3 separate regions of the Homo sapiens genome follow, and all the other regions are linked to region 2. Evidence: fine-mapped expression QTL. A gene starts in region 2. Each other region holds a variant in brackets. All regions are shown on one strand. Distances are between the middles of the regions. Region 1 overlaps LASP1 (LIM and SH3 protein 1). Region 2 holds the start of LASP1 (LIM and SH3 protein 1). Region 3 overlaps LASP1 (LIM and SH3 protein 1).

Region 1 (10,390 bases), 23 kb after region 2:
AGCCTCATCTTCTCAGAATTGAGTCTTCGAGTGCTGGGCCAGAGCTGCCCGGAGGTCTCCTCTCCCCCACCCTGCTTTTGCCACATGTGCCTCTACTTCCATGTGCTTGCCTCACCACAGCCCCTGCCCATACAGTCTGCAGAATGGCTCTGATGTTGGGAGGAGGGTCGTCTCGTCTCTGAAGCGCTCCCTCTTAGGGCCTCAGGGCCTGCCAGCCCTGCTAGAGATCTTCCCTTTCTGGTCTCTAGGAACAGACTCGTGGTTGATCATCCCTTGGCCTGGAATTGTACAGGAACTTTGAAGGGAGCTCCTCAGCTGTGGGTGGCCCTGGCTGCACGGGGACGACCCCAGACTTGGCCACGTATTCATCACAGGCCACGTCTGTTGCCAGCTGCGGACACCTGTGTTTGCCTTTCCTCATCTTCCCTTCCTCTGCTGGAGGAACTGCGAGTCTGGGCTGACCTGGGTGGCCAGGACCCAGGTGAGGGCTGGGGGACGGGCACCGCTAGGATCATCTGGATCCGGGACAGTGAAACTGGCCCAAGGGAAAAAGGATTTGCCAAGGTCACCCAGTAAGTCAGTGGCAGGGCCAGAGCCCTGCACTGGGCCCTGTCAAGTTATGCTCCTTTGATTGAGGTCTCCAAATCCTGAGCCCTGCCCTTCACAAGTGGTGGCCTCAGGGGAAGTCGCCTGTTTACAGGTAGCTCTGATGCACGGCCATGTGGGCGGCAGGAGAACATGCCGAGCAGAGGGGCAGCTCGTTCTTAGCTCTCGAGTGTGTCAGTTTTGGGTGGAACGTGCCTAGGAAGAGGTCCCAGGAGGCCATCTATGGCTTACCTGGGTGCAGCCTGTGAGTCAGGGATCTGCAGGGGTCATAGCTGTGGTGGGCTGTGGTCACCCAGGGCTAAAAATGGCCTGACGGGCTCCGGCTTGGAGAAGCCACCCACCAGTCCCTGAAGTAATTGGGGCCCATGCAGACCCCCAGACATTTCTCATAGCAGCACATACACACAAACCACATGGCTCAGAGCTGCCTGTCTCTCCTGCAGCTGGTTTGCTAGGGGACCTTGTGATGAGAGAGGGATGGAGAAGGGCTGAGTTCTAGTCCTGCACCAGCTTCAATTCCTGGCGTGACTTTTTTTTTTTTTTGAGATAGAGTCTTGCTCTCGCCCAGACTAGAGTACAGTGGCGGATCTTGGCTCACTGCAAGCTCCACCTCCCAGGTTCAAGTGATTCTCCTGCCTCAGCCTCCTGAGTAGCTGGGATTACAGCTATGCGCCACGGTGCCCGGCTAATTTTTGTATTTTTAATAGAAACAGGATTTCGCCATGTTAGCCAGGCTGGTCTCGAACTCCTGGCCTCAAGTGATCCACCTGCTTTGGCCTCCCAAAGTGTTGGGATTATAGGCGTGAGCCACCATGCCCAGCCTGACATTTGTTTATTCAACAAATATTTACTGAGCATCGCCTACTATTCTAGGAACTTGAGATAAATCAATGAACAAAAGAGACCCCAAAATCCCTCCCTTCATAGAGAAGTAGTGGAGAGAGAAGACAATACATTGATGTGATAAATAAGTTAATTATGAAGACTGCTAAGGGAGAAGTGCCTGGTGCCAGCACACCGTTTCCTCCTCTGAAATGAGGGAGTTGGACCAGAGTCTTCTGGAGGTCTCTGCAGGCTCTGAGGGTTGCCGTGGCTTCGGCTGCCTCCAAGCCAGGCCCTCTTCCTGGGGACCAGGCTGTGCTGGGCCTGGAAATTGGCGGCTAAGTTCAGCATGAACTGAAGAAATCGTCTGGGCGCAAATCTGGATCCCTGTGTGTCTTGGCCATGTTGTTTAACCTCTCTGGCCTCAGTTCTCCCATCTGTCAAAGGGGTACGCTGAATACCAGTCACACAGGTGGCTGTGAGAATTCGGTGAACTAGGGCACATAAGCCCTTAGCACAGGGAGAACATTCACTGTTTGTTTTTTTTTGTTTTGTTTTGTTTTTTCTTTTTGAGACGTAGTCTGGCTCTGTCACATAGGCTGGAGTGCAATGGCAGGATCTTGGCTCAGTGCAACCTCTGCCTCCTGAGTTCAAGCGATTCTCCTGCCTCAGCCTCCTGAGTAGCTGGGACTATAGGCGCACGCCATCACACCCGGCTAATTTTTGTATTTTTAGTGGAGACCGGGGTTTCAGCATATTGACCAGGCTAGTCTTGAACTCCTGACCTCGTGATCTGCCCGCCTCGGCCTCCCAAAGTGCTGGGATTACAGGCATGAGCCACTGCGCCCGGCCTAATTCACTGTTGTTACTATAGATTGAGCAGCCCTAATCCAAAAATCCAGAGTCTGAAGAGCTCCAAGATGCAAAGCTTTGAGTGCCGACGTGATGCCACAAGGGAAAATTCCACACCTGGCCTCATGTGATAGGTCATAGGTCAAAAAGCAGTCAATAATTTTGTTTCATGCATAAAATTATTTAAAATATTGTATAAAATTACCTTCAGGCCATGTGTATGAGGTATATAGGAAATGGTCCCATCCCCAAGATGTCTCAGTATGGATATTCAAATATTCTAAAATCTGAGAAAAAATCCAAAATCTGAAACACGTCTGGTCCTGAGCATTTCCAATAAGGGATACTCAACCTGTATTTTACCTGTCACCCTCAGGTGACCTCCTTTTTTGTCCTCAAGCTGGCCTTCCCACCTACCCTCCAGTTAGGTTGGACCTTGTTAACCGTTTGAAATACCACTTTAACCGTGTGTTTTCTCTCTCACCACTTCCTCCAGGAAGTCCCCCTGGATATGTGTGTCCCTTTGTTTTTCTGTCTCCCCCTTGCTCTCCTCTGCATGGTCGGTCTCCACTTCTGGTCTTAGCTGAAAGCTTAGTCCTGACTCACCTGTGCCCATCTTCCCCCAGCCGGGCCCAGTTGCCTCGACCTCCATGTGTGGTAGGCACAAGGCATGGATTATCCCCAAACAAGGGTAACCTTCAACCCTCAGAGAGTGGCCCAGTGGCCATCCTTTCGCTCAGGACAGTTCTCCTTGGCTGGCCCATCACTGATGCCTGCTGCGTCTTCCCAGGTCAGCCAGTCCCAGCTGAGTCTGAGAAACGCTTGTCTCCCCTCGGCCTTGGTGGTGGACACTGAAGTCCTCCTGTGGGGCCGGGCCAGGGCGTGCCCAAGCATAGGACGAAGTTCCCAGGAGGGCATGCTCTGTGAGAAGCCCAGAGGCTCCTGCCCCTCCCCCAGAGTCACCCCCACTCTGTTTTTTCTGTCCTGCAGACACTACCCCAAGCAGTCCTTCACCATGGTGGCGGACACCCCGGAAAACCTTCGCCTCAAGCAACAGAGTGAGCTCCAGAGTCAGGTGAGGGGCTGGGCGGTGCTGGGGCCTGGCAGGGAGGGATGCTGGGGAGGGAAGTTGTAAGGTCGGCATTTGGCAAGAGTACCTTCCCCTGCGGTTACTCTGCAAGGCCAAGGTGCTGAAATCCTAGCATTGCCTTTAATCTTGACCCCACCCCTGACTTTATCAAAGGAGCAGGGTAGAGCGTTCTCCCACTTCCTACCTAGAGGGGGTTGGAGAGGTGTGGGTGTCTATTTGAGCCCGCTCTGGGGCTCCCTAAAGCCTACCTCCTCCAGGAAGCCACTCTCCCCTCCCTCTTCCCCATTCACACTCACCCACAAAGGAGGGGTTTGGGGAGGACCAGGGAATTTGCCCCTCCAGGTCATGCCAGTCTGAGGCTGGGCAACCAACCCTCTATAGCCGCGTCCCAAACCTCCACCCACTGAAGGGCAAGGTGTGAAGGGGGCCCTGCCATGGGGGCACAGGATAGGGGGCTGTTCCGCCTCTGTCTCCTTTGGCTTGACTTTCCAGAACACTGCTGAGTGGGAGGTATGTGCCCCTGTAGGAGGGGAGGACGGGTTCCAGGCCTAGGGAGAACTTGGTCTTTAGGGGACACGGAGGAATAAGCAAAGGGTCTGGAGTCCTGAGAACAGAACAGCTGACCCACCCTGCCTGGGGGTGCGAGGGCTCCTGGGACAAACCTGGCCAGTGATGAGGTGGGGTGGGGTGGGGCGGGGCTTCAGCCGATGAAGGATTAGGCGCGAGAATACATGTAGGGGAATTTACCACGTGGGCAGCGCGCCCAGGACCCACTCAGGATCGGGAGAAGACTGCAGAGGTTCCACCCGGGCCACAGAGGGGATCTCTCCCAGTTCCTCCAGAGGGGACTCCTGCTGCCTGATCTTGATGTGACTGCCCGGGTCCATCAGGGAGAACCGACCCTGCCTTTTGTCAGGCTTTCCATGCACCCTCTCTCAGCATCCTCCCAGCAGCCCTGTGAGGAAGGTGCTATCTTCCCCATTGTTACAGATGAGGCGACTGAGGCCCAGCGACTTTGAGGGACT[A/G]GCTGAGGTCCTGCGGGTAGGAGAGGCAATAATAATATTCACAGCTGACGATGGAGGGCTCAGTGCTCCCGGCGTGTGAGCTCGTTTAATCCTCACCCAGCCCTGTGCAGCTGTAGCATCACTTCACTTCAGAGAAGAGGAAATAGACACTGGCAGCTTTGAATGTAGGTTTGTCTAACCCAGGGACTATCCACTCCCCAAGAAACAGTCTCTACCTTAATAATAAACATGATAGTTCCTTATGCTGTTGAGAAGTTTTGTAGTTTAGGGCTGGGAGCCATGGCTCACGCCTGTAATCCCTGTGCTCTGGGAGGCCAAGGTAAGAGGATCACTTGAGCCCAGGAGTTCGAGACCAGCTGGGGCAACATAGCAATACCTGGTCCCTAAAAAAAAAAACGAGCAGAGATGGTGGTGTGCACCTGTGGTCGTAGCTACTTGGGAGTTTGAGGCGGGAGTATCACTTGAGCTGAGGAGTTGGAGGCTGCAGTGAGCCATGATCGCACCACTACACTCCAGCCTGGGTGATGGGGTGAGACCCTGTCTCTAAAAAAAGGAAAAGCAAGAAATTGTGTAGTTCAGCAAGTGCCTTTAGTTAGTTCCCCTGTTTATCCTTGACTGGGTTCTGGGAGAAGGTAAAAGACCCAGCGTCTCTGTCTTACAGATAGGGGAACCGAGTGAGTGAATGCGGATCCAGGATTTGGGCCCTGGTCTTGTCACTCCCAAGTCTGGGGCCCTTGATGCTGCACAGCCCTGGTAGGGCCTGAGGCTCACAGAGGAAGAGAGCAGCAGCTCACACCTGCCACCCACCCACCTGCGGCACAGAAGCTGAAGTTACTAGGAAGCAGGGAACACCACAGCCTGCCTGGCCATATTTTACAGATTCTAGCCAGGCCCTGACTCCTGCCTTCAATTCCCTGCCCTGTGGAAGGGCCATGGGGGCCAGAGGTGGAGGGGCTCAGAAGGACCTCGGAGAAGAGGTGCTGGGAGCAGATAGCAGGTCTTTGGAGACACACACACACACACACACACACACACACACACACACACCCTTCTCAGGGGAGAAATTCAAACCCCTCAGCCTTTGTCAGTTCCACAAAAGCGTGGCTGCAGCTCTTTTTGCCCCGGCACCCTATCCCCGAGGGGTGGGGTTTGAGGAGGAAGCACCTCCACGTTGTTCCCCCTGCCCAGGATGGGCAGCAAGTGGGCAGGGCATGCTGTTGGCAGGGGCTGCTTCTGCCCCCCACAGGGGAAGCCAGCACCACGCTCTGGGTTTGGGGGCTCCTGTCCCTGGCCTGTGCCCCCTGCTTCCCAGGGTCATAGCCTGCTGGGTTCCCGGGGGGGCCTCTTGGGAGATGAAAATGGCGGTCACTCTTCATTAGGGCCTCACTGAGGGCCAGAGCGTGTCCGTGTGTGTATGTGTGTGTGTGTGCGTGTGCACGCATGCACGCGTGTATGTGTGTGTGTGTGTGTGCAAGCATGCACGCATGTATGCGTGTATGCCTGACTTTGTTTAATCCTTACAGCCACCTGATGAAAGAGGGGCTCTTATTATCCCCATCATACAGATAGGGAAACTGAGGTTTACAGAGGCTGCCCTGCTTGTGCAGAGCCCAGGGACAGGGGCAGACATCAAGTCCCATGACCTGGCCCTGGAGCCCGTTGCTCTGAACAGTGCTGATGGCACAGGCACCGAGCCCTGTGCTCCCACCCTGCAGGATGCACCAGTCAGCAGCAAGTAGGATGGGCTTGTTGGAATGCAGATTCCTAGGCCCCACCCAAGGGACTTCTGCTTGGCAGCTCTGGGTGAGGCCCAAGAATCTGCATTTTGACTCCCCCGTGATTCTGATAAGGACTTTTGGCCCCACTTTAAGAAGCTTAGAGATGGGTCCATGGGCAGGAGTGTACCGACCCTGTTTGTATGCTCTGAGGGGTGCCACATTAGGGTAGGGCTTTGCACTAAGGGCACGGCTCTGTTCCCCTGAGGTGGGGGTCCTCGGGGGTTGGGGGCTGAGGGCAGGATAGGCAGGGGAGGAAAGGGTACTGCCCTTTTTGCAGGCCTGTTCTGTCTCCCTTCCCACCGCCCACCAGCTGTGTGGTCTGAGACTGGCCTCAGACTGTCTTTCCTCTCATAGCTTTGCTTCCTCACCAGTAAAATGAGGACAGCAAACCCAGTTGCCTCAAGCTGGGGGCTGGGCCTGATGCTTTGAGGCTTGGAAGGGCTGAGCCGGCCAGGCTGGAGCAGTGACGGGTTCTGGTTCCTGTGGCTGCCGTGGGGGCAGAGCTGGAGAGAGCTGCCTGCGGCTAGCAGGAAGGGAAGGGGGAGCCTCTTCTGCTCACCCAGCTTCACCCCACGGGGTCAGCTGGCTTCTCTCCATGCCCCTTCTGGGCCTGCCTTGCCCTTCCCTGTCTCTGGGAAGCTGCCCAGGCTATTTCAGCTTTATTTATTTTCCCATCTCTATATTGGTCTCCAAAATGGCACTTTGGGTGTCTGGGACACCTGGAGCCTCCCCTGTGGAGGAGGTAACCACAGAACTGTCCAGAAATGACCCTCTCGGTGGTCCTGCCCAGGCCTGGCTGAGGCAGGGGGCTGGCAGCTGGACCCCCAGCCCCCCTTCTCACTTGCTGCTCCTATCCCACCCCCAGGCTGAGCAGAGGCAGTGGCTTTGGGGTGGGACTGAGCTGGAGGTGTCTGTATGGCCCTGAGCCCAGGCAGAAGTGCCAAGTGCCAGTAGACTGTTCTTCCATTTTTTCCTTCATCAACTCACCTTGATGGGGTCATGGGAAATTACAGGGGGGTTTCTATCCTCCTCGGATCTTGTAAGCAGCACGGGTGGTAGAGTATCACTCTTACCCGAACTAGCTGGCCTGAGATTGAATCTCGCATCTGCTGCCACCAGCTGTGTGACCTTGGGCAAGTTGCTTAACCTCTGTGCACAGTGCCTTCGTCTGAATAATGTGGATTACCTCTCTCCAGAGGGTGGTGTGAGATAGGAGGATATGTTAAGCATTTAAAGATTCCTGACGTGGAGTCAGCATTCAGTGTTTGCTACTACTGTTCTCCCGGAAAGGAGAGGAAATGGAACTTGGACATGAAGAAGCTGGGAAATACACACAGCAACCTTTTGACCATGACTTCCAGCCCCGGCCCTTTCCATCAGCTCTCCTCTCCATCTGTGTGTGTCTAATTTTTTTTTTAAATTTGTATTTTTTTGAGACAGGGTCTCTCTCTGTCTCCCAGGCTGGAATGCAGTGGCGTGATCTTGGCTCATTGCAGCCTTGACTTCCCAGACTCAAGCGATTTTCTCGCCTCCACCTCCTGAATAGCTGGGACTACAGGCGTGCATCACCATGCCCGGCTAATTTTTGTATTTTTAGTAGAGACAGGGTTTCGTCATGTTGCCCAGGCTTGTTTCAAACTCCTGACCTCAAGTGATCTGCCCACCTCAGCCTCCCAAAGTGCTGGGATTACAGGTGTCAGCCACCGCGCCCTGCCTAAATTTTAAAAACTAGTGTTTCTTTTTTGTTAGAAGGGGATGGGTTACAAAGTATGTTGGCCCAACACATGGTAGGCACATAATAGTGGAAATTGTATTTCGCTCAATAAATTTTGTATTTTTTTAGAGATTTTTATTAATTTTTTTTTTTTTTAAATAGAGATGGGGTACTATGTTCCCAGGCTGGTCTCGAACTCCTGGGCTCGAGTGATCCACCTGTCTTGGCCTCCTAGACTGCTGGGATTACAGACATGAGCCATTTTGTTTTTTAAGTCCAGCCTAATTTTTGTGTTTTTTTTTTAGACGGAGTTTTACTCTGTCGCCCAGCCTGGAGTACAGTGTCACCATCTCAGCTCACTGCAACCTCCGGCTCCCAGGTTCAAGGAATTCTCCTGCCTCAGCCTCCCAAGTAGCTGGGATTACGCCCACCACGCCCGGCTAACTTTTTTTGTATTTTTTTTAGTAGAGATGGGGTTTCAGCATGTTAGGCTGGTCATGAACTCCTGACCTCAGGTGATCCACCCACCTCTGCCTCCCAAAGTGGTGGGATTACAGGCGTGAGCCACCGTGCCTGGCATAATTTTTGTTTTTAAGTAATGATCCTTCTTCTTATATTGGGTCATCAAGGCAGTTGTTTTCCCAATTATGCTGCTTTGTTTGGAGATTACGTGTCTGCATTCAATTCATTCATGATCCAACAAATGTTGATCTGCACCTCCTGTCTGCTGGGATGAGAAGCAAGATAGATCCAGGGAGAACAACTAAGAACTGACAGAAAAATTAGAGTTTCACGGATGGTGGTTGTTTGGGTGTCAGGAGCCTCAGATGTCAGTCAGTCCTGGGCCTGACAGCAGAGTTTCCAAAATGGGAGCCCAGGTATCTCCCAGGAGTGGGGTCCTCTGGGAGCCCAGGCATCTCCCAGAAGTGGGGTCCTCTGACCGAAGCGCTGAGTTGCATCCTGGCCTGAGCGACAACTGGGTTGTGACCTTGGGCAGGTCCCTTCCTCCACAGGGACCCCCACAGCACCCTGGTGAGCCATCCTAGACAACAGGGGCAAGCACTCCTGCCAGGGCAAGAAGGGAGCCCTGAAGAGGGGCTCTGGGCTGGGCCCTCCCTACACCCCTGGCCCCCCACCCTTCACTTCTGCCACCCCTTCCATACCCAAAGACCTTTCAAAGAGCCTCCCTGTCTTGATTATCCATAGTCAGGGTCTGAAGGTGCTTTAAAATGGTCACAGACTCCAAATGGGAGGGATTTTAGAGATCAGCTAGCCAGCTCCCTTCAGGGGACCCAGAGAGGGGAACTGACTTGCTTAGAAACACACAGCAAGGTGGTGCTGATCCCAGGCTCCCTCCCTTCTCAGCCCCTACCCCTCACCCCTACCCTCTGTGGGCCTCCTATGTTAGCAGTGAAATGAATGATCCTTCCCCAACAGGGAGGGGGAGGCAGAAGCAGTTCCCGATCCTGGGAACCTGCTGATGTCATTGCAGCGTCGCCATGGCGATTATTCCCCTGGATTAGGGGCCTGACCCTTGCAAAGCCAGGAAGCAGGGGACGGAGTGGGGGACTGGCACTCGTTCAGCACTTCATTGCTGACAGAGCACTTTCACACTGGCCCTCCACAGTGCGCTGCTGCTTTAGAGCCACTGTCTGTATCGTGGGTTGGAGTGACTGGCGTTATGGTCCCCATTTTACAGATGTGGGAACTGAGTCTTGAGATGTGAAGTCGTTGGCCCAAGATCACTCAGAAGTGGGAGACTGAGCCTGCGTTAGTGCTAGCTCCGCCTGGCTTTGTGCCCAGACTTGGTGATAAGAAGCCCCCTCCCCATATTATACCTGATTTCTGTCACAACTCTTTTACAGATGAAGAAACCGAGGCCAGGGGCTTGAGATGCAGGGCTTCTGTATCTGGAGCTACATTTCTCTGCCTCTGAGTGCCCTACCTTCCCCGATGCCCGCTTCCCAAAGGGCCTCCCACTAAGAGTCACCGTGCTGGCCCAGGGCTTCCAGGACTGAGGAAGAGCTGGTGCTAGGCAGGTTCTGGACTCTTGGGGTGGGTTGGTGCCTCTATCCACTGCATTCACTTCTGAACTAATGGGGAACAGCACATCCAAGCCCTTCTTGTCTGGATCAGAACAGAGAAGGAGAGGGAACCACATGGATGAGTGACTGGGGGCTTCAGGAGACAAACAAGGACTCTGACCCCCACAGGCATGTGCAGAGGACCTGACAGGTGTGGCCGTGGCTGCATGCGCATGCGCAGTCGCTCCAGTCCAAGCACAGCTCGGTGCTGCTGCCAGATGATTCCCTGCCAGGGAACTGCCTGGGTTTGTGTCCTGGGCTGACCTGTGTCCAGGACAGTGCAGCCCCCGTGGAGGAAATCCAAGCAGCTGGTGGGGTCTGGAACAGATGGCTGATGAGGTGGACAGTGAAGTCTCTGGAAGCCAAGGAATAGTTTCCTGTTCCATGAGTTTTCTCAGCCTCATTCTGTTCTTCAAAAC
Region 2 (10,390 bases):
CCAAAGTGCTTGGATTACAGGCATGACCCATCGCGCCTGGCGTTTTTGTTTTTTTTTTTTTTTTTTTTTTTTTTAGATGGAGTCTCATTCTGTCACCCAGGGTGGAGTGCAGGGGTGCGATCTTGGCTCACTGCAACCTCCCACCCCTGGGTTCTATTGATTCTCCTGCTTCAGCCTCCCGAGTAGCTGGAATTACAGGTGTGTGCCACCACACCTGGGTAATTTTTGTGTTTTTTGTAGAGTGGGGTTTTGCCATGTTGAGAAGGCTGGTCTCGAACTCCTGACCTCAGGTGATCTGCCCACCTGGGCCTCCCAAAGTGCTGGAATTACAGGCGTGAGCCATTGTGCCTGGCCACCTGCATTCTTCTCTAGCTCGGCTGTTCTACTTGTTCCTACTTGTAATAGACTAAATAATGACGCTCCAAACATGTCTACATCCCAGTCTCCTTGTGAATCTATTTGTGACTATGTTACCTCTCATGATAAAAGCAACTTTACAGATATGATTAAATTAAATATCTTGAGATGTGAGGTTATCCTGGATTATCCAGGTGAGCTCAGTGTAATCCCACAGGTCCTTACAAGAGGGAGGCAGGAGGATCAGAGTCACAGAGAGAGGAGATGGTAACATGGAAGCATGGAAACCAAGGCTAGACGGAGACAGGATGATATGCTGCTGGCTTTGACAACTGGGGAAGAGGCAATGAGGCAGCAATGTAGCGGCCTCTATAGGCTGGGAAAGTCAAGGAAACGGATTCTCCCCTAAAGCCTACAGAAGGAATGCAGTCATACTAACATTTTAATTCTAGCCCTGTGGATTTTTTTTTTTTTTTTTTTTTAAGATGGAGTCTTACTCTGTCACCCAGGCTGGAGTGCAGTGGCACCATCTCGGCTCACTGCAACCTCCGCCTCCTAGGTTCAAGCGATTCTTCTGCCTCAATTTCCTGAGTAGCTGGGACTGCAGGCGTGAGCCACCATGCCTGGCTAATTTTTCTATTTTTGGTAGAGAAGGGATGTCACCATATTGGCCAGGCTGGTCTCGAACTCCTGACCTCGTGATCTGCCTGCCTTGGCCTCCCAAAGTGTTGGGATTACAGGCATGAGCCACCGAGCCCAGCCAGCCCAGTGAAATTGATTTTGGGATTCTGACCTCCAGAACTGTGAAGATAATAAATTTCTGTTGTTTTATGCAAATAGACTGTAATTTGTTATATCAGCAATATAAAACTAATAAAACACTGTAGTCTAAGACATCACCACCATCTCTGACCCGTATTATTACAATAGATTCCCAACTGGCTTCTCTCTCTCTCTTTTTTTCTTGAGACAGAGTCTTGCTCCGTCACCCTGGCTCACTGCAGCCTTGACCTCTTGGGCACAAGCAATCCTCCTGCCTCAGCCTCCCAAGTAGCTGGGACTACAGGTACACACCACCATACCTGGCTAATTTTTAAATTTTTTTTGTAGAGATGGGAATCTCACCATGTCGCCCAAACTGGTTTCAAACTCCTGGGCTCAAGTGATCCTCTTGCCCTGGCCTCCAAAAGTGCTGGGATTATGGGCATGAGACACCATGCCTGGCAGACCCTCTTAGATTTTCAACTATACAATACAGTATTGTTAATTGAAGGCAAAATGTTGTACAGCCGATTTCTAGAGTTTTTTCATCTTGCAGAACTGACATTTTAGACCTATTGATCAGCAACTCCCTCCAGCCCCTGGCAACAATCGTTCTACTCTCTGCTTCTGGGAGTCTGACTATGTTAGAAACCTCATATAAGTGGAATCATGCAGTATTTGGTCTTCTGTAACTGGCCTGCTTCACTTAGCATAATATCCTCAAGGTTCATCCACGTTATTGCATATTGCAGGATTTCTTTCTTACTTAGTTTTTTTTTTTTTTCTTTTTTGCAACGGAGTTTCGCTCTTGTTGAGAGCGAAACTTGTTGCCCAGGCTGGAGTGCAATGGCGTGTTCGTATTCTTTTTGGAGAGACCAAGGAAAAACTTTATCCAGTTTTGCAGGAGGTTGTTCTCTGACTTGCTAGCGGGGAGAGATGAGTGGGATTGTGGATAAAGAATTGAGCCTAGGCCGAGTGTGGTGGCTCACGCCTGTAATCCCAGCACTTTGGAAGGCCAAGGTGGGCAGATCACCTGAGATCGGGAGTTCAAGGCCAGCCTGTCCAACATGGAGAAACCCCGTCTCTACTAAAAATACAAAATTAGCCAGACGTGGTGGTGCATGCCTGTAATCCCAGCTACTCGGGAGGCTGAGGCAGGAGAATTGCTTGAACCTGGGGGGCACAGGTTGCGGTGAGCCGAGATCGCACTATTGCAATCCCGACTGATCAAGGAGAGCGAAATTCCGTCTCTGGGCAACATAGGGAGACGGCCTCCTTCACCCACCACCTGCCCCCATCTCCACAAAATGGAAAACAAACAAACAAACAAACAAAAATTGAACCAAGCAGGGGTGCGGTGGCTCATGCCTGTAATCCCAGCACTTCGGGAGGCCAAGGCGGGCAGATCATGAAGTCAGAAGTTCGAGACCAGCCTAGCCAACATGGTGGAACACTCATCTCTACTAAAAATACAAAAATTAGCTGGGCGCGGTGGCGGGCGCCTGTAATCCCAGCTACTCGGGAGGCTGAGGCAGGAGAATCGCTTGAATCCGGGAGGCCGAGATTGCGCCACTGCACTCACTCCAGCCTGGGTTACAGAGGAAGACTCCGTCTGGAGAAAAAAAAAAAAAAAGAACTGAACCTAGACAAAGCAGATTGGCACCTAAATTCACACGCTTTTCAAACTGCCACCACGTCTTGGCCTAGCCTTTTTTTTTTTTTTAGATGGAGTCTCGCTGTGTCGCCCAGGCTGGAGTACAGTGGCATGATCTCGGCTCACTGCAACCCCCGCCTCCTGGGTTCTGGGTTGCAGCAATTCTCCTGTCTTAGCCTCCTGAGTAGCTGGGACTACAGGCTCCCGCCACCGCTACCGGCTAATTTTTTGTATTTTTAGTAGAGACGGAGGTGGGGGGGGGGGGGGTGGGTTTCACCATCTTGGTCAGTCTGGTCTCGAACTCCTGACCTCGTGATCCGCCCGACGCGGCCTCCCAAAGTGCTGGGGATTACAGGCGTGAGCCACTGTGCCCGGCCTATCTTGGCCTAGTCTTTTAATTTCTCCTTCCTCATTGGTAATTTCAGTATAATCTAGCAAAGAGACACTAATTTTGAACGAATGGTGAAAGTATGAAAATTTTGGGATCAATCGATGTAAAAACAATTTACCAGAGAGCCACCGCCAGAGGGGGTATAGCTCAGTGGTAGAGCATTTGACTGCAGATCAAGAGGTCCCCGGTTCAAATCCGGGTGCCCCCTCGGGTTTCTTTAAGTTTTTTTCACAGCCATCCAGGAATAACCTGAGTCAGCGAGTTCTGAATGCAAAACTCACGGGAGGTGTCGTTTGTATCTTCCACCTACCTAATTTTCACCTTGAAAGGATTCCCGTACCCTAGAGGGAGAGAACAGCAACCAGAGGCTGCCTTTAGGTGGATCTGAGCCCTCATACCCCAAGTGGCGATAAGCGCACCAGTACTCTCAGTTGGAGAACAAAGGCGCGTATCGATTTCCATCTCCGATGCCCATTGGTTTAACGTTAATTATAATTTGTTTTGGGGTAAAAAATATGTCTTGGACGGGGCAGTAGTTCGTACTTGACTATGAAAACTAGGAGAAGTAATCCAAATTCAGAGGTTTTCATATACTCGCGAACTCGAACAGGACAGGGCACACAGATAGAAGGTAGACAGCGAGCAATTTTCCCCTCTTCCTTCTTGACTCAGCTCATAGGCAGGGCTTTGGCTTGATAAGCTATACATGGAAAGTTCAAGGCCTAAAGGAGAGGTAAAACTGGTTCCTCCTGGGTTTTGCACGGAACCGCAGCTCTGCTGATCTGTGATCTCTCTGTTCAGCCTAGAGATACAGCTCACAGTAATAGGAGCCAGGAGAAAAAAATGCGCGTTTCCCCGGGGTCCGAGGAATGACACAACCACATTCCGGGTTTAAAATATCGCAGCTGCCCTTTGACCCAGGCAGCACGCCTCTTCCTTTCTCCTTTATTTTTCCTTTTTTTGGGCAAAACCTAGTCGAGGGGGACGCCCTTGTCTCCCGTCACACTTACCATTTTCCTCCGGCCCAACAGTGACCCTGTCAGGCACGCAGCCAGCAGATACTTGTCCCCATCTTTAGGTTATGAAACTCCATGGCCTTTTATTCTTACTTCAGTGGTTCTTAAAATGTGGTCCCCACACCAGCAGCACCAGAGGCACCTGGAAACTTGGTAGAAATGCAAATTCTCGGGGCCCCCTTACAGAATCAGAAACTAGCAGTGTTTTAACAAGCCCTGCAGGTAATTCTGATGCACGTTCAAATTTGAGAAACACTGTGTTCGTTTATCTCAGTTTGCACTGGGTTATAACTTTACTTTTGTACATTAATAGTCAAGGATGAACACAGCACGTCCATGTCACCATTAATACAGAAAGTTGAAGTTGGAGAAGGGCTGTGTCTATGGGTTTCCCTCGCCTGACCCACCCTCCACCCCCAAAAGGAACGCCAAGTTGAGGCGTTCCCCTGTCTCCCTACCCCCATTGGAAACATCCTGTCCCTCAAACCCGGCACCTCGAACTGTCTGACCCATCTGAGGCTGGCGCCCGTGGCCGCAGAAATCCCTACACCTCTGGCGCGAGTAATGCGGTCGCGCAGCTTTTATACCCACCCCCTCCTCCCGCTGAGCACAAAGTAAAACCGAAAGATTTCTGCTAAGGTTGAAAAATGAGGAAGATACTTTTTCTTTTCTTTTTTTTTTTTTTTTTAGTCAGGACCCAATGTTAAAATGTGAGTCAAGAATGAAAAACAGATGGTTAACAAGGGGAAGGAAAAACCAAGCCATTGAGGGGGCACCCGGATTTGAACCAGGGACCTCTTGATCTGCAGTCAAATGCTCTACCACTGAGCTATACCCCCGCGCCTCTACAGCGCCTGGAGGCGGCTCCTTGGGTGCTAAGCATTGTTGCAGCTGCTACACTGTGAGTAGTGGTGTAACAGAAGGAGAAAGGAATGCTGGAGAAAAAGGGGTCAAGCTGAACGCAGACGGTGCCCGCATCCGGGGAACCCCGGGAAGGTGCACTGCAGGGGCTCGAGAGGGAAGCACTAGCCCGGGCCCGGCAGCGCGCAGGGTCCAAGAGGGAGGGACGGGTTCCGCCCCACAAATGTGGGAAAGGGTGTGGGCCGGAAGAGAGCTAAGAGGGGCAGGGTAGGGGGTCCCCGTTCGGTCCGCAGATTCATGCCGGGTAGAAAGTCCCCGAATGCGGTGAATCAGTTCCAGCGTTCAGGAGGATCCAACCCCACCCTCGACGGGCTTGAGGGGTTAGCCCGCCTCCCGCAGCCCGGGCGCCCCAGATGTGCAGCCTGCTCGCCTCTGCGCCGCCTCCGGCTGGGGAAGGGCCCTGGGCACCGGGCGCAGTCAGCCTGAGAGCGCTGAGGCGCCAGCACCGCGGGCCCCGCCGTCCCCCCAGGAACCCGCCCCCGCGCAGCCCCACGTCGCCCGGAGAGCGCGCCTCGCTGCGCGTGCCCTTGCCCGCGCCCGAGGCGCGTGCCCGCCCCAGTGCAGCCCCTCCTCCCCGCTGTGTTTATTAGGGGAAGGAGGGCGGAGGCGGAGGCCAGTTCCCCAGCTCCAGCCGCCGTCGCTGCTGCCTGTGTAGTTGCAGCCGCGGCCGCCTCCCGCCAGCTCGCCTCGGGGAACAGGACGCGCGTGAGCTCAGGCGTCCCCGCCCCAGCTTTTCTCGGAACCATGAACCCCAACTGCGCCCGGTGCGGCAAGATCGTGTATCCCACGGAGAAGGTGAACTGTCTGGATAAGGTGAGCCCGGGACCGGGAGACGCGTCTTTGCAATCCCCCGCAGTGCTCCGAATCCAGGGAGGAGAGAAGGGCCGGGTCTTTGCCGCCTTATCCCCGCGATCCCAGGAGAATGGAGGGAGGGCGAGCGGGCGGTGTCATGGGGTGTGGGGACACATCCCAGTCTGAAAACCAGGAGATCTGGGGCGAGGCGGGAAGTCCACGCGTAGCGGGCAGCCGCTGCTGGAGAGGGGTGGGCTCTGTGTCCCGGGGTTGGGAGGACGGGAGAGGAGCAGGGAAGTCAGGCGCCGGGGTGTGTTGGGGGAAGGTTAGGGGTGCAGTCCCGCCCCCTACGGCCTGGAGAGTGAGAAGAGACGGCCGCTCCCTCTCCGCTCTGCGCCGAGCGCCAAGTAGGCGGAAGCGCGGGGCGCTGGTGGAGGGGGCGGGGGGGCGGGGCAGAGGCTGGGGGGCCCTGCAAAACCGTCCGCTCCGGCGGGGGTGGCCTGGCTTCCTGGCCTGGCGGGGCGGGGGCTATCAGCCTGCGAGTGTGTGGCATCTGATGCGGGGGGTTTTGGGTAAGGACCCGGGCTCTGCCGCAAGAGCCCCGTTTTTGAACGACCTGCACCCCCTTGGATTCAGTCGTTAAAGGACTCGCAGACCTCCTCCACAGCTTCCCAACCCCCACCTCCAATTAAAAGCCAACTCCCGGTGCTGGGCCGTCCAGCCTGAGCCGGGTGGGGTTGGGTGGCAGAGTAGGGTGGGTGGAGGGTGCTTAGCTGAGATCTCCTGAAATTGTGCTCAGAGCCAGGAGACCGTGTGGAAGAACAAAGAGCTAACTTTTCAAAGCAGGTTTCTCCAATGGAGGGTGGGGTTGGCTGAGTTCTGGGGAAGCCGAGGAAAGGGGGAGGTATTGGGGGGAGGGGAGGGTGGCCTTGTGGAGATTCAGTGTCCCCTGGGGGCCCTGTCTCCCCAATGCTGGACTTGTTCATCTGGTTGCCATTAGACTTTTGGAGGGGGGTTGGAGAGTAGAACTGGGTGTTTCCCGTACAGTTTAGGGTAGGATCCTGTTCTCTTGTAAGCTCCGTAAGATCCTAAGGTAAAACCTGCCCCTCTGCATCCCCTCCCCAGTCTGGAGGGGAGGCCTCTGTGATTTTGTGCCCTTCCTCACCGCGTCTTTCATCCACCACCCAAAGCTGGCTCCAAGTCCAAGTATTCTGTCCTTTCCATCTGAACTGGGAGGGCTGGGAGGACTGGATGGAAGAGAGGTGCAAGGGTGGGAACACTAGATGAAAGAGGGGTATAGAGCCCTGGGGCCAAGTTCATTACTGACCTGGAGCCAGGTTTTGTTCAGGAGAGGATAGTTTATTGGACACCTTATCTCTCCCCTCCCCCTTGGTGTGTGAGCTTCCTCAGTGACCTTTGGCCTCTGAGTCAGCGTGAGGAGGTGGGGTTGGAGGTTCTGAAAGATATTTGAACTTGCTCTTGGGGAGTGTGGGCATATGGGGCCGCTGCTGTGTCACTGTTCCTCCTGGTCCTGGGCTTGACTGGGCAGGAGGAGAGGAGGGGGTATATTGTGGGCACGAGGAAAGTTGTTGATCTCCCCATGACCATGCCAGCCGCTGTTGGGCAGGACTTGAGCTTAGAGCTATCAGATAATGAAGTCTCCCCTTGAGAATGTACCTGTCCTTGCACACTGGGGTTTCGCCCGCCCCTCGTGGCAGAGATTTTGGCCTCTGCATCTTGAGTTCCCTGTGGTCCCCTTCTTCTCCACAGTCATGAATTGGGAAGAGGCAGTGGGCACTTGACCCGTATAAGGAAAAAGCAAAACATGAAGGCAGGATTGCCACTCCAGGAGTTGGGAAACTGGGTCCTTGTTCCAGGTCTGCTCCCACCAGTTTTATGAATGTCTCTAGGCCTCAGTATTCACCATCTGTCAGATGGGTATGATGATGTCATTTCCTTAAAGGTGGGGCAGTGCACTAAAGTCCCTGAGTGCTAAAGAGGGTGCTGTATAGACTATGCCCTCCCTACCTCTCTGGGATGCTCTGTTCAGCTCCACACCACTCCCCTTGGAAAGACCTTCAGTGCCGTGTACCCGAGGGGAGGGGAGCAGGGATGGGCAGGGTGCCCTCCCCAGTTCTCTTACCCTAGCTGGAAGAGGACGTTCAAGTGGGGGTTGCCCAGGGAAGTGGGAGTTGGTGATTCCTTCCTCTTTTTAGAACTCTCCCTATAGGAAGTGGCCCTGGAGAGACCTCGCCCCCTGTACTGAGCAGGAGACCTGAAATATCCAGGTATCAGACCTATTCCTCTCCACCTGCTCCAGGCAGTAAGGATAGGACCAGGAATGGGGAGCCAGTGCCTGGAGGATGCTGGGCTGTGACCAGGGAGGAGGGGAAACCTTCAGTCCCATAGGCAGCTTCAGTCCCATAGTTGCTAACCAACTTCCCAAGGCCTCCCATTTACAGCAAAAGAGTCAAATTAGACTCACCCGTTTCTCTACAATCCCCCATGGTACTCAGCCCACTACGTGGCCCAAAGCACAGGGTGTGTCCTTGGTTTCAGCCTTTTCTCCTCCCTGAGCCTTATCTCCCAAAGGCATAGGTGGGTAAAAACCTTGTCACCTCTGAAGGCCACCCTGCCCCCAACCTGCAGTACCCAGCATGCTTTGCAAGCTGGATAAATATGTATTGCTGATGACAGTGTTTGAGGAAGGAGGTCGAGATTTGCTTCTCCAGAGGACTTCTGGGATTAGAGCTGGGGGAGAAACAGGGTGACCTCATTTGCTCATTCAACAAATATTTATTGAGCACCTACTTTGTGCACCTGCTTTGTATCTAGGGAGCTGTGTTGTCAAGAACCTCGCCACGTCCCTCTTTCCTGGCTTGCTTCCCCAGGTTTCTGAAAACAGGTGGAGGTAGAGGATTGGTCTGCTGCCAGTTCCCCTGGAATCCCCTGTTAGGGTGGGCTCTCTGCCTCTGCTTGTCTCAGCGCTCCCTCCCCACTCGAGGGGGTTGAAGTCCTCACAGCTGTGGTGCCCCGTTTTGCTAGCTGAAGCTTAGAGTACCCCACCATCATCTTGTGACCATCCCTTCATAATAGCTACTAGTTATCACGATATGCTGGGCTCAGTCTTCACAGCAGCCTCACAAAGTAGGTGTATTCGCTCTTGTAAACGATGCACTCCATAAATGGAGGCTCAGGTAGCCCATGTGGCTCATCTCCCTCTCTTAGAGCTGAAATTCACATCCACAGTTCTTTCTGCTCAGCTCTTCTGCCAGTGTGTTTGCAGAAAGTACTTTTATTTATACATATTTATATTTTATTTACATCTCATTTGTGCCAAAAGTAGGTCCCATCCCTTCCTGACCCTATCTGGAGGAATGCTCTGGGCCTGGGGTCTTGTATGGGGGCGTGGGGCCACTGGGAATAATCCTGTCCTCCTCGGAATTTGTGGAGGTGCAGCAAAGATCTATGCCTTTAAGCCAGCGGGTCAGGTGGCCAACCAAGCTAGGCTGGTGCCCCGGCCAGGGTGGGGCTGGCATTGCCTCTGCAGGAGGGAGAAACTGTAACCCTGGGCAACAGGAAGGGAAGAGATGGTCTCATAATCCATCCCTGAGTCATGGCCACCCCAGGTAGCCTGGGTTCAGAGGCCAAGGTGCCAGGCTGCAGGCACAGTGACACGAAGCTTGCCACATCCCCCCCAACCCAGAGCCACAGAGGGACAGGCTGTCCCAAGTGAGGGGTATCCTTGCAGGCTTCTGCCCCTACCAGCCTGTTTACCTTTCTTTAGAGTGGGTTGCAGGTAGGCAAGGGAAGATCAAGATGACCCTGCCTTGGAGCCTCGGATCCAGGCTGAGAGGCCTCTAACAGGCAGCAGAGGTAGGGTCTGTCTGGTTTCTGTGAACAGGGAAGCCATGGACTTTGCAGGCAGCAGGAAGGGGCAGAGGTGCATGCCTCGAGGTGCAGTTTCCTTGAGTCCTGAGGCCCAGGAATGCTTCGCTGAAATCATCTTGCCTGGGGCCTTTAAAAGAGGGGGGCTCTTGCTCTGGGACAGAGCCCATGGGGCAGGGCAGAGGCAGACGGGGTCACTGTGGGGTCCTCTGGACATATTTCCCTGACAGTGTCCTTCCCCAGACCCCATTGAGACAAGGCAGGAGTTCTTTCATCTTAGGGTCCAGGCTTGGCTCACAGCGGTTGTGGAGGGACTGGCCATTTTCTGCCTCCCCTCCCCACAATTTTCCTACCCCAAAAAGGACACAGTGGAAGGAGCTGGTGGGTTTTCTTGAACCTTGGGGCCTTCCTCCAGAGAGGGTAGGGGAGTCGCCTGAAGCTGCTGGAGGTGCCAAGCATTAGGGGTGGAACGGCCTCCTCTCCTGACCTTCCAGCACTCTGGGAGACAGTGGCTGCAGCTCCACTTGACACTTGTGCTTCATAGTAACTGGTTTCCATGTTTCTGCTCAGAGCCCCCTGCAGGGGGACAGGCGACCACCCTCCTCTGCC
Region 3 (10,390 bases), 39 kb after region 2:
CTGTGCCCAGCTGACTCCAGTTATTTCTAAAGGTCAGGCCATCTTACAAAAGAATGAGGATATGCTTCCTTGGAGGGATATGCTGCAGACTAGGGCTTTTTACCAGCCAGAGCATTTTAAAAACAAGTGTCTGATCTCCTCTGGGGTGTCTGCTTTGGATAAGTGCAGTCTGTCTTCAGTCTTGCTAAGTGGTGAGACAGTGAGGTAGGAAGAGATGGTAAGGGCCCAGATCCTAGCTTCTGTCATTCTGGGGCCAGGCAGGGCTCTTTGAGCCTCAGTTTCCTCATTTGTAAAAATGGGACAGTAGGCCCTACTTTGACAGGTGGTTGCAAGGAACATGCCAAGTGCTTGGCATGGGATAAATGATATCACTCTTATTATCATCATTATTATTTTTGAGACAAGATTGCCCAGGCTGGAGTACAGTGGCACGATCATAGGTCACTGCAGCCTCGAACTCTTGGGCACAAGTGGTCCTCTCCCGTCAACCTCCTGAGTAGCTGGTACTACAGGCATATAGCACCATGCCCAGCTAATTGTTATTTTTTTTGTAGAGAGAGGGTCTTGCTATGCTGCCCAGGCTGGAGTGTAGTCACGTGATCACAGCTCACTGCAGCCTTGAACTCCTGGGTTTAAGTGAACCCTGGCCTAAGACTCCCAGGTTGCTGGGATTACAGGCACACGCCATCACACCCAGTTATGTTGTCAATGTTATCAATACTTTAAAGGCACACTTGTCTGCTTTCTACACTGTTGCCGGAGAAGGGTCATAAAGTGAAGTTTGGCAGAAAAGTTTGGCCATTGTCTAGTACTGAGAATGTGTGGAAGTGAGGAAAGGGGCCAGTATATTACACATCTATGGTGAGTAGTTGTGTCATCATTAAAGGCATTTGAAGAGTTGCCTTTTGATGGGTCCATGCTATGGGATAAAGGTTACATGTTAGGAATCCTGGCCTTTTGTCATGAGCTCTAGCAGTGTTCAAGTATGGAAAACTTTAGTCACTTTACTGGAGCCTCTTCTTTTATTTACTTACATATTGATTTTCTGTATACAATTTTGTGTCCTTAAAACTTTTTTTATGTGTGAAATATGACACATAGTAACATATACAATAAACACCTGTTTCACCAGGCAGGTATACCATACATTGTATTACTGTATGCCTGTCAAGAGCCCAGTGTTCACAGTGTTAAAAATATAACTCCCATGTAGTAAGTACTTATCATATCTTTATTTAATTATGAGGGAACCAGCTAGAGATTAAAACTGGGGAATATGAGAGGCAGAGGTAAATGCTAGTCTGTGAAAGAAAGTGCTGGGGCCGGGCGAGGTGGCTCATATCTGTAACCCCAGCACTTTGGGAGGCCGAAGCGGGCAGATCACCTGAGGTCTGGAGTTCAAGACCAGCCTGGCCAGCATGGTGAAACCCTGTCTCTACTAAAAATACAAAAATTAGCCAGGTGTGGTGGTGCACACCTGTAGTCCCAGTTACTTGGGAAGCTGAGGCAGGACAATTGCTTGAACCCGGGAAGTGGAGGTTGCAGTGAGCTGAGACTACACCACTGCACTCCAGCCTGGGCAACAGAGCAAGACTCCGTCTCAAAAATAAAAAAAAAAAAAGGAAAAAAGAGAGTACTGGATACATTTAGCTACAGAAATGGTTAAGGGCCTACCATTAGTTACACATTGGCTATTGTCCTACAGGAAAATAAAACCATAAACTTTGAAGATATCTTTGCTGCAGGCAGAAATGCTTTGCATCTCAGTTGGCCAGAAATAATGAGCATTTTATACTCTGTAATGAGCTTCAGTCTTTAGAGTCTGGGCCTAATCAATAGTAAATAGTCAAACAAAGTTTTGTCCCCAGAGTAAAATACTCTGAAGGCAGGTTTGTTGGACAATCCTCTAGTTTGATTTTGAAAGCATGTATTTTTCATTATAATTTTAGTATGTAATTATGTATTCTTAAACACTATAGTTTTGCTTTTCCTGATTTTGAACACAGAGTAATTTTGTGTATCTTGCTTCTCTTACACACCATTGGGTTTAAAGATTCATCCATATGTTTGTGTGTAGCGGTAGTACATCCTTTTTCATTGCTATATAGTATTCCATTGTTTGTTTATACCACATTTTATTGATTCTGTTGCTGGTGGACATTTGTACTGTTTCCAGTTGCTATGGACATTTTTGTACATATCTCCTGAGGTCTATGTACATTGGAACTGCTGCATCTTAGAATGTGTGCTCCTTGGGCCGGGCCGTGGTGGTTCACACCTGTAATCCCAGCACTTTGGGAGACCGAAGTGGGTGGATCATGAGGTCAAGAGATCAAGACCATCCTGGCTAACACAGTGAAACCCCGTCTCAACTAAAAATACAAAAAATTAGCCGGGTGTGGTGGCGCACTCGGTGGCGCAATCCCAGCTGCTCTGGAGGCTGAGGCAGGAGAATCACTGAACCTGGGAGGCAGAGGATGCAGTGAGTTGAGATCGCACCACTGCATTCCAGCCTGGGCGACAGAGTGAGACTCCATCTCAAAAAAAAAAAAAAAAAAAAGTGTGCTCCTTCAACTTTACGAGATAATGCGGAACTATTTTCCAAGTGGCTGCACTGATTTACCCTCCCACCAGCAGAGATGAGTTTCATTTGCTCCATGTGCTCAGATATGTTCACTTTAGCATTTTGATCGTGTAGAGTGTGATAGCCGATGGTTTTAGATTGCATTTCTGTGATTACTAATGAAGTTGAGTACAGACTTTTGTTTGTTTTAAAAATAAAATACTGGGGCATGGTGGGCTCACGCCTGTATCCTAACAGTTTGGGAGGCTGTGGTGGGAGGATTGCTTGAGGCCAGGAGTTTAAGACTTGCCTGGGCAACATAGCAAGATACCATCTCTACAAAAAAAAGAAAGAAAATTAGCCGTGCATGGTGGCATCCACCTGTAGTCCCAGCTACTCGAGCGGCTGAGGTGGTAAGATTGCTTGAGCCCAGGAGTTTGAGGCTGCAGTGAGCCATGATCACGCCACCGCACTCCAGCCTTGGTGACAGAGCGAGACCCTGTCTCTAAAAAATAAATAAATAAAATATTGTGAGTCTCTGATGGGGAGCAGTATTGCATGGTGGTTGAGAACTGAGGCTCTGATGTTAGAACTGGATTCTGACTTAACCCACTGTTTGCCCACATCTTGAGCCTTGGTTTCCCTATCTGTAAAATGGCAGTATTCTCGGGCTGGCTGAGGAAAGGAAATGAGGCCAGGCGCGGTGGCTCAGGCCTGTAATCCCAGCACTTTGGCAGGCTGAGGCAGGTGGATGATTTGAGGCCAGGAGTTTGAGATCAGCCTGACCAACATGGCAAACCCCCGCGTCCACTAAAAATAGAAAAAAATAGCTGGGCATGGTGGTGCACCCCTGTAGTCTCAGCTACTTGGGAGACAGAAGCAGGAGAATTGGTTGAACTTGGAAGGTGGAGGTTGCAGTGAGCTGAGATCGCACCACTGCACTCCATCCTGGGCGACAGAGCAAGACTGTCTCAAAATAAATAAATAAATAAATAAATAAAGTTAAAAAAGAAAAGGAAATGAGTAATGCATGTAAGGGCACCCAAAAAAAGACCCTAGCTGGTGAGCTGATGATTCCACCCAGAGCCTGCTGTTCCCTCGTTCACTGTGATGTATAATCATGTGAGGAGCACCGTATGGAGAGTCAGACTTTTATTTTCCACCACAGTTGGGAGAGCAGGGGGGTCAGAAAACAGAACATCAGCTAGCAGAGCTTTGTCATGGACCCTAACTTGTCATCCTGGAGTCCCAGCTAGTAGGGTCCTGGCTGAGTCGGGAGGGTCCTTAGGCCTGGACCCCTGAACCCACATGTACTTGGACCTCATGGGCACAGGTAGAGTGTGGCCTGTGTCCACAGAGGCCCAGGACAGCTTCCAGGCTGGGGGCTGTGCTGACATGTCTGGGCTTAGGGCGCTCCTCACTCAGGGCTCTCTGAAGGCCAGAACTTTGCAGAGCTTGGAGCAGGGATGAGCCAGGCCCTTGGAAGCTGGGAAATGTTTCCTTGCCTTCTGAATGTGCTAACATCCCCCTCATGTGCCTATTTGCTTAACAAACCAGTAGGTGGGTCAGGAAAGTAATAACACAATTTCCTCATTTGCTGGCGAGGGGAAGGAGAGGAAGCTGAGGGTTTGGAAATTTTATCCAAGTGGGCCCAGGCTGGAAGGAGCTGAGCCTCACTTTTTCTCAGCCCATTTAGCCGCTCTGTGCCGCCTGTCCTGAGTTGCATGCCTGGTGTCCCTCTCTCTCGAGTTAGGGTGACTTTCTGATTATCATTCTTGTTGAGAGTGAAAAGGGGTGCATTGAAATTTATCCCTGAGCAGCAGACATGAACTGGGACTTGGGCGTGTGGTCACCCTGCTCCACACCTGTTCTCAGGAAAGGGCCTGTCTAGCTGTGATTTTGTCCTTGTGTCACCAGCCTTGGCTGTTACTGAGCAATGAAAGCTCTGCCTCGGGAAGTCATTTAATTTCTGAGCCTCATGTTCCTCTTCTGGAAGATGGGAATGAAAGTGTGCGTGTCCGGCCCATTTTTTAGGGCAATGATTGTCAGGGTATGAAGAGCTTGGTCAAGCTGTGTGAAGAGCTGTACAGCTGCAGAGGTTGTTAACATTGATAGAGCCACCCAGGAAGGGTGTCCTGGGTTCAGGCAGCTACTCCTCCAGCCGTCGGGTCAGCCAGCCGTAACTTTAGATACACTTATCCATGTGTAATGACTTTTTAAGAAGCAAGATCAGTTTCCCCAGCCCTTTATGGGAATACCCATGTGTCCATACTTGCTTTCAGCTTAGAGTTTGCTCAGGTTCCTAGAGCTGGTCAGGGTTTGCAGGACCGCCTGGGAGCAGATGGTACCATGGCCTTATTTACAGATGAGGAAACTGAGACCCAGAGGGGAAAGTGACTCCCAAGGTCATGTAGGTAAGCATACGGCTCCCCTAAGGATGAGGCATTGGTCTGGTGACAGTGCAGCCCATCATAAGGGACTGAGCCTGTGGGGTCCAGACCTGCTCTCCTCCCAGAGGAAAAGGCTCCCTGTCACCCCATCGCTAATGCAGATAGCGTCATGTCCAGGGAAGCTGTCACACATTCATCTGGGCCCCCAACATCAAGGACACCTGTCCCTGCAGGCCCCCTGCTGGCACCTTCGGGGCCCAGGGCAGGCCCCTGTCCATTCCGTGTCTGCACTTCCCTCCCTGGTCACAGGTTCTCAGGGGCAGGCTCTTTTCCTTAGCAGAAAGGAAACAAGGGAAGCTGACCTTTCCCACCTCAGAACAAAAGTTGGAAGGGCAGGTGCCTCGTGAGCCTGGAGGCCTCAGGAGGGGTGTCCCCTTCCCTTGTGCCCTCCCCGCCACCAACACCAGTGGACAGGGATCACTAAGAGAGTGGGGCTCGGGAGACTCACCTTCTGCGCTGGGTCTGTGAGAACATCACCTGGAGTGCCCCTCCCAGCGGATGCTGGGGTCGGTTGGATTTTCAGCCTGGCCAGGGTTGGCTGCCTCACCTCAGGAACAGGCTTAGCCTGTGCTGCCACGTGGGTGCCGGTCCTTGCTCTGGCCTGAAGGGAGGGGGCCGGGAAAGGAGGGACTGATCCTGACCCAAACCCCTAAGTAAACTGCCCTCTGCGTCCAGACTGGACTCCCCCCAGACTCTGTCCAGGCCCTTACCACTGCCCTCCCTGTGCCCCCAGCCCGGGCTGCAGGAACTATTGGCTGTTCAGCCAGCAGGAGCAGCAACCATGCAGGTGTTTCCAGCTGTTAACGTGTAAGCCCTGCCTGGCCACGTGCTTGCTCTTGCCTTTTGTGCACAGCCAGTGCCAAGGGGGAGAGGAGGCAGCAGAGACGTTGTGCGGAGGGGATGCCCAAAGGGGACTGCCCAGGCTGGGACAGCCCTGATGGGGCAGGGGCGTTCCAGGAAACAGCAGGTTTTGCCTCTCCTCCTCTTCCCACCCCACTACTCCCACCCCATTTTCCCGGATCAGGAAAAGGCAGGCCAGCATTCTAGGGAACAGGAAGTGAAGTTGGCTTCCAGCTAGGTGCCTGCCAGGGCCTGGAGGAAATTCCTGCAGGCCTGAGCCCGTCTGGGAAGGACCAGTTTCTCTCCTTGTCCTGGTGTCCTGCTTTCTGAGTTTCCCCTGAGGGTGGGGGAGAGCTGTCACTCTCTTCACTCTATGTCCCGCTTCCTCCCCCATCCTCATGGAGCACTCAAACCCTGAACCCTCACACCTTTCTATGGTTGTACCCGTCCCCACCAGTTTCCTCTCTGGAAAGTGAAGAGGAGGCTGGGCACGGTGGCTCACGGCTGTAATCCCAGCACTTTGGGAGGCCGAGGTGGGCAGATCACAAGGTCAAGAAGTTCAAGACCAGCCTGGCCAACATGGTAAAAGCCTGTCTCTACTAAAAATACAAAAATTAGCCGGGCGTGGTGGCAGTTGCCTATAATCCCAGCTACTCAGGAGGCTGAGGCAGGAGCATCACTTGAACCCGGGAGGCAGAGGGTGCAGTAAGCCGAGACTGTGTCACTGCACTCCAGCCTGGGCGACAGAGCGAGACTCCATCTCAAAAAAAAAAAAGAAAGAAAAGTGAAGAGGATAGAGCCCACTAGGGGTCATCAAGGTGTGGGACAGGCAGCATGTTCCTACAGGAAGAAAACTCTAACTCCTGGTTCTGGTTCTTTTTCATCTCATTCATTCATTCATTCATTCATTCATTCATTTGTTTTGAGATGGACTCACTCTGTCTCCCAGGCTGGAGTACAGTGGCTCGATCTCAGCTCACTGCAATCTCCGTCTCCTGGGTTCAAGTGATTCTCATGACTCGGCTTCCCAAGTAGCTGGGATTACAGGTGCCCACCACCATGCCTGATTAAGTTTTGTATTTTCAGTAGAGACAGGGTTTCACTGTGTTGGCCAGGCTAGTCTTGAACTCCTGACTTCAAGCAATCTGCCAACCTCGACCTCCCAAAGTGCTGGGATTAAAGGTGTGAGCCACCGCACCTGGCCATCTCATACTTTCACAATTCATTCTTTGGTGCAAGTTTTACAATATACATTCTATATTTGTCAAGTGATAACTTCCATGTAACTTATAAAATACACATAATTCAGGAAGATTGTGCTAAAATACATTTAACCAATAGGAGTATGCCGTC[A/G]GAATATTTTGGCAAACAAGGGTCACTAAGTTTTTTCTGTAAAGGGCCAGGTAGGAGGTATCTCAGGCTTTGTGGCCATATGGCCTCTGTGGCAGCAGCTCAGTTCTGCAGTTCTGCCATGAAAGCAGCCACAGATAAGAGGTAATTGAGTGGGTGTGGCTGTGTTCCAATAAAACTTTATTTCTGGAGGCTGAAATTTGAATTTCAGAGAAATTTCATGTGTCATGAAATATTATTCCTCTTTTGGTTCTTCTTCCCCCCCTCCACCGCCCCCTGCCAAGCATTAAAGAATGTGGAACCCGTTCTTAGCAGCCGGCTGTGGGCTGGATTTGGTCCATGGACCATAGATTCCCAGCTTCTGCTCTAGACCACCCGTTCTCAGACTTGAAGCCTGCTTCAGACTTACCTGGAGAGCTTTTTTCCAAAATGCATATTCCAGAACCCCAGCCCTGATTTTGTAGATTTTCTGGAAGGCCCCAGAACCCGCATTCTAACAAGGAGCCCAGTTGAGTCAGACACAGGTAGTCTGGAGTCCACTTTTTTTTAAACAGAGTCTCAGTCTGTTGCCCAGGATGCAGTGCAATGGCGTGATCTTGGCTCACTGCGACCTCCGCCTCCAAGGTTCAAGCAATTCTCGTGCCTCAGCCTTCCGAGTAGCTGGGATCACAGGTGCCTGCCATCATGCCCAGCTAATTTTTGTATTTTCAGTAGAGACGGCATTTCACCATGTTGGCCAGGCTGGTCTCAAACTCCTGACCTCAGGTGATCCACCAGCCTCAGCCTCCCAAAGTGCTGGGATTACAGGCGTGAGTCACCGCGCCCGGCCAGGAGACCACATGTTAAGAAGCAAAGCTCAAGGGTCTCCAGGATCCTGGTCTGTTCTCTTCAGCCAGTCCTGAGGCCTGGGGTGTGCAGTGCTGTGGGAGACCCCTGCATCAGAATAACTGGCTCCTTCACTACCTTCCAGGAGCTTCCATCCAGTGGGGGTGGGGGACACCACCCGCCAACAGCACAGCCCAGTCCCAGGTGCTATGGAAGCCCTGGGTTCAGCCTGGAGCCAGGGCCAGCGTCCCGAGGATGAGGTGCCGAGATGGACCTTGAAGGATGAGAGAAGCCTGGACTGCCCTTGAGTGGCGAGGGTGGGCTGCCTCCAGGTTGACCTTAATCCCTTCCCTCCCTACCACCATGTGTCCAGATGACCTTGGGCAGGTCCCTTAGCCTCTCTGGATATCGGGATATGACATTGACTACCTCAGAGACTTGTGGGGAGGATTCGGCGAGCTGATATGCATGAAGTGTATCAACTAGGGCTGCTGGCTGGTATCTCCTTCCCTTGTCTTCCCCCACCACCCCAGCCAGGGGACAGGGTGCTGCTGAGGGAGTGGGCTGGGAGAGTCACTTCTGGCCTTGTCTTAGGGATCTGAGAACAGGGCATGGGCCCCGTGTCTGGGAGTGCCCTGGTGCCCTTCCTAGTGGGGTTGGGCGTGGTCAGTCTGGCCAGGGCTGGCTCCCTCCCCCATAAATAGGCTCACCTGGAGGTCTTTTCCCATTTGAGGCAATGAGATATGTATGTGAGGCTTTATGACTTGTCTTTTTTTTTTCATTTTGAGACAGAGTCACGGAGTCTCACTCTGTCACCCAGGCTGGAGTATAGTGGCATGATCTTGGCTCACCGCAACCTCTGCCTCCCAGGTTCAAGCTATCCTTTTGCCTCAGCCTCCCGCGTAGCTGGGATTATAGGCGCCCGTCACCACACCCAGCTAATTTTTGTAGTTTTAGTAGAGACAGGGTTTCACCAAGTTGGCCAGGCTGGTCTCGAACTCCTGACCTCAAGTGACCCACCCACCTTGGCCTCCCAAAGTTCTGGGATTACAGGCGTGATCCACCGTGCTCGGCCTCACCACCCGCCTTTCTTGTGGTGTAGTTCTTGCTGCCTCAAGAACTACATATATCAGGCCTCAAAACCCACCTGATATATGCGTGCCTGGGAATAGGGACCTTGACTTTTCCCCTGTCCCATATGGGCCCAGGGGCCGGTTCTGGGCTGGCCCAGGTGGGGCTAGAGCAGCTGGATCCAGGCACATGAGATGTGAAAGTGTGGGCCTTACGCCGCATGGAGCGGCTGGAGGAAGGAGAGAGGGAGCAAGGGTGCCGCAGGGTCAGATTGCCACAGGGCCAGGGTGCCACAGGGTCAGGGTAGGGCCAGGGTGCCATAGGGTCAGAGTAGGGCCAGGGTGCCACAGGGTCAGGGTAGGGCCAGGGTGCCGCTGGGCCAGGGTGCCGCAGGATCTGGTTGCCACAGGGTCAGGGTGCCGCAAGCACAAGGAGTCACCCGTGATTCTCCAGGGTCTGGCTCTTGGGCTGAGATCCAGGAGACCTTGGCAGGCCTGTCTTTGGGAGTCTGGCACAGCCCCAGAAGGCCATCTGGACAGTTTTCAGACCTGAGAGGAGGAAAGGGCTTGTGTCTGGAGAAGGTGCCATGGGGGATGGGAGGTGGAGGAAGCCTGGGGCCAATCAGGATCTGGATCTAGCAGGGAACACCGAGGCCGGTGTTCTCGTCCCACCATGGGACTCAGCCTGAAGAAGACAAGGTGAATGAACGACCATTTCTCTCTAACTCAGTTGGCTAAGAGGACTGAGCTGGCGCCGAGGCTCTGGACACAAATGGGCCAGTTGACCCTGAGGTTTCTTTCTGGTAGTGGAGGTGGGGCTTCCTCTGGCTGACCCTGCTTAGGTCTCTGATGGAGGTAGCAGGGGCTCTGGTTCCCCCAAACTGGCCAAGTCCTCCACCATAGCACCCAAGGGGTCTGGGCAGAGTGCAGCTTCCCTCCCCTCCCCAGCTTGGCTTGGTGGGCACCTGCCTCCCCTGCCCTCCTGACCTTGATGGCTAATGCAGCCAGCCCCAGGCAGGCACAGTCACAGCCCTCAAACAACATGAGGCCCAACTCAAGACTCCTGGGTGGTGGTGGTCAAGGTGGGGGACTCTGTAGCCAGTAGAGCACTGTGGGGGCAAGAGACTGACTTGAAGGCTTGGAGCCTCACATGCCCGCCTAGTGGGGTGGTCCTGAGGGATATGACTTCTTTGGGCCTCTCTGCTCATTTTTGGAACCTGACCCGAGAAGGAGCCCATCCAAGACAATGTCCCGCCCTCAGGGAGGGTCTGGCAGTTTTTATCCCTAAAGGC

The links.
Region 1: its variant is fine-mapped to the expression of LASP1 in whole blood (TOPMed, PIP 0.98).
Region 3: its variant is fine-mapped to the expression of LASP1 in whole blood (INTERVAL, PIP above 0.99).

Annotation. Positions count from the first base shown.
Region 1 is chr17:38,887,150-38,897,539 of GRCh38, forward strand. LASP1 (LIM and SH3 protein 1) reads left to right here. Exons shown (of 7, transcript NM_006148.4): 3 at 3,271-3,355. Among named protein-coding and RNA genes, the nearest start is that of LASP1, 22 kb to the left of the region's middle. RefSeq lists enhancers at 5,751-6,324, 8,411-8,932, 8,933-9,454, 9,455-9,976. The variant A/G (reference allele first, on the strand shown) is at 4,396.
Region 2 is chr17:38,864,345-38,874,734 of GRCh38, forward strand. LASP1 (LIM and SH3 protein 1) reads left to right here and starts at 5,714. Exons shown (of 7, transcript NM_006148.4): 1 at 5,714-5,914. The coding sequence starts at 5,846. It overlaps TRC-GCA2-2 (tRNA-Cys (anticodon GCA) 2-2), which reads left to right and starts at 3,301; the gene lies at 3,301-3,372. TRC-GCA4-1 (tRNA-Cys (anticodon GCA) 4-1) reads right to left here and starts at 5,019; the gene lies at 4,948-5,019. RefSeq lists a cis regulatory region at 3,093-3,706, enhancers at 3,365-3,967, 3,968-4,568, 4,144-4,323, 5,814-5,963, 6,976-7,577 and silencers at 3,924-4,023, 5,444-5,753, 6,274-6,373.
Region 3 is chr17:38,902,991-38,913,380 of GRCh38, forward strand. All of the region lies in intron 4 of LASP1 (LIM and SH3 protein 1), which reads left to right. Among named protein-coding and RNA genes, the nearest start is that of MIR6779, 6.8 kb to the right of the region's middle. RefSeq lists an enhancer at 8,922-9,881. The variant A/G (reference allele first, on the strand shown) is at 7,207.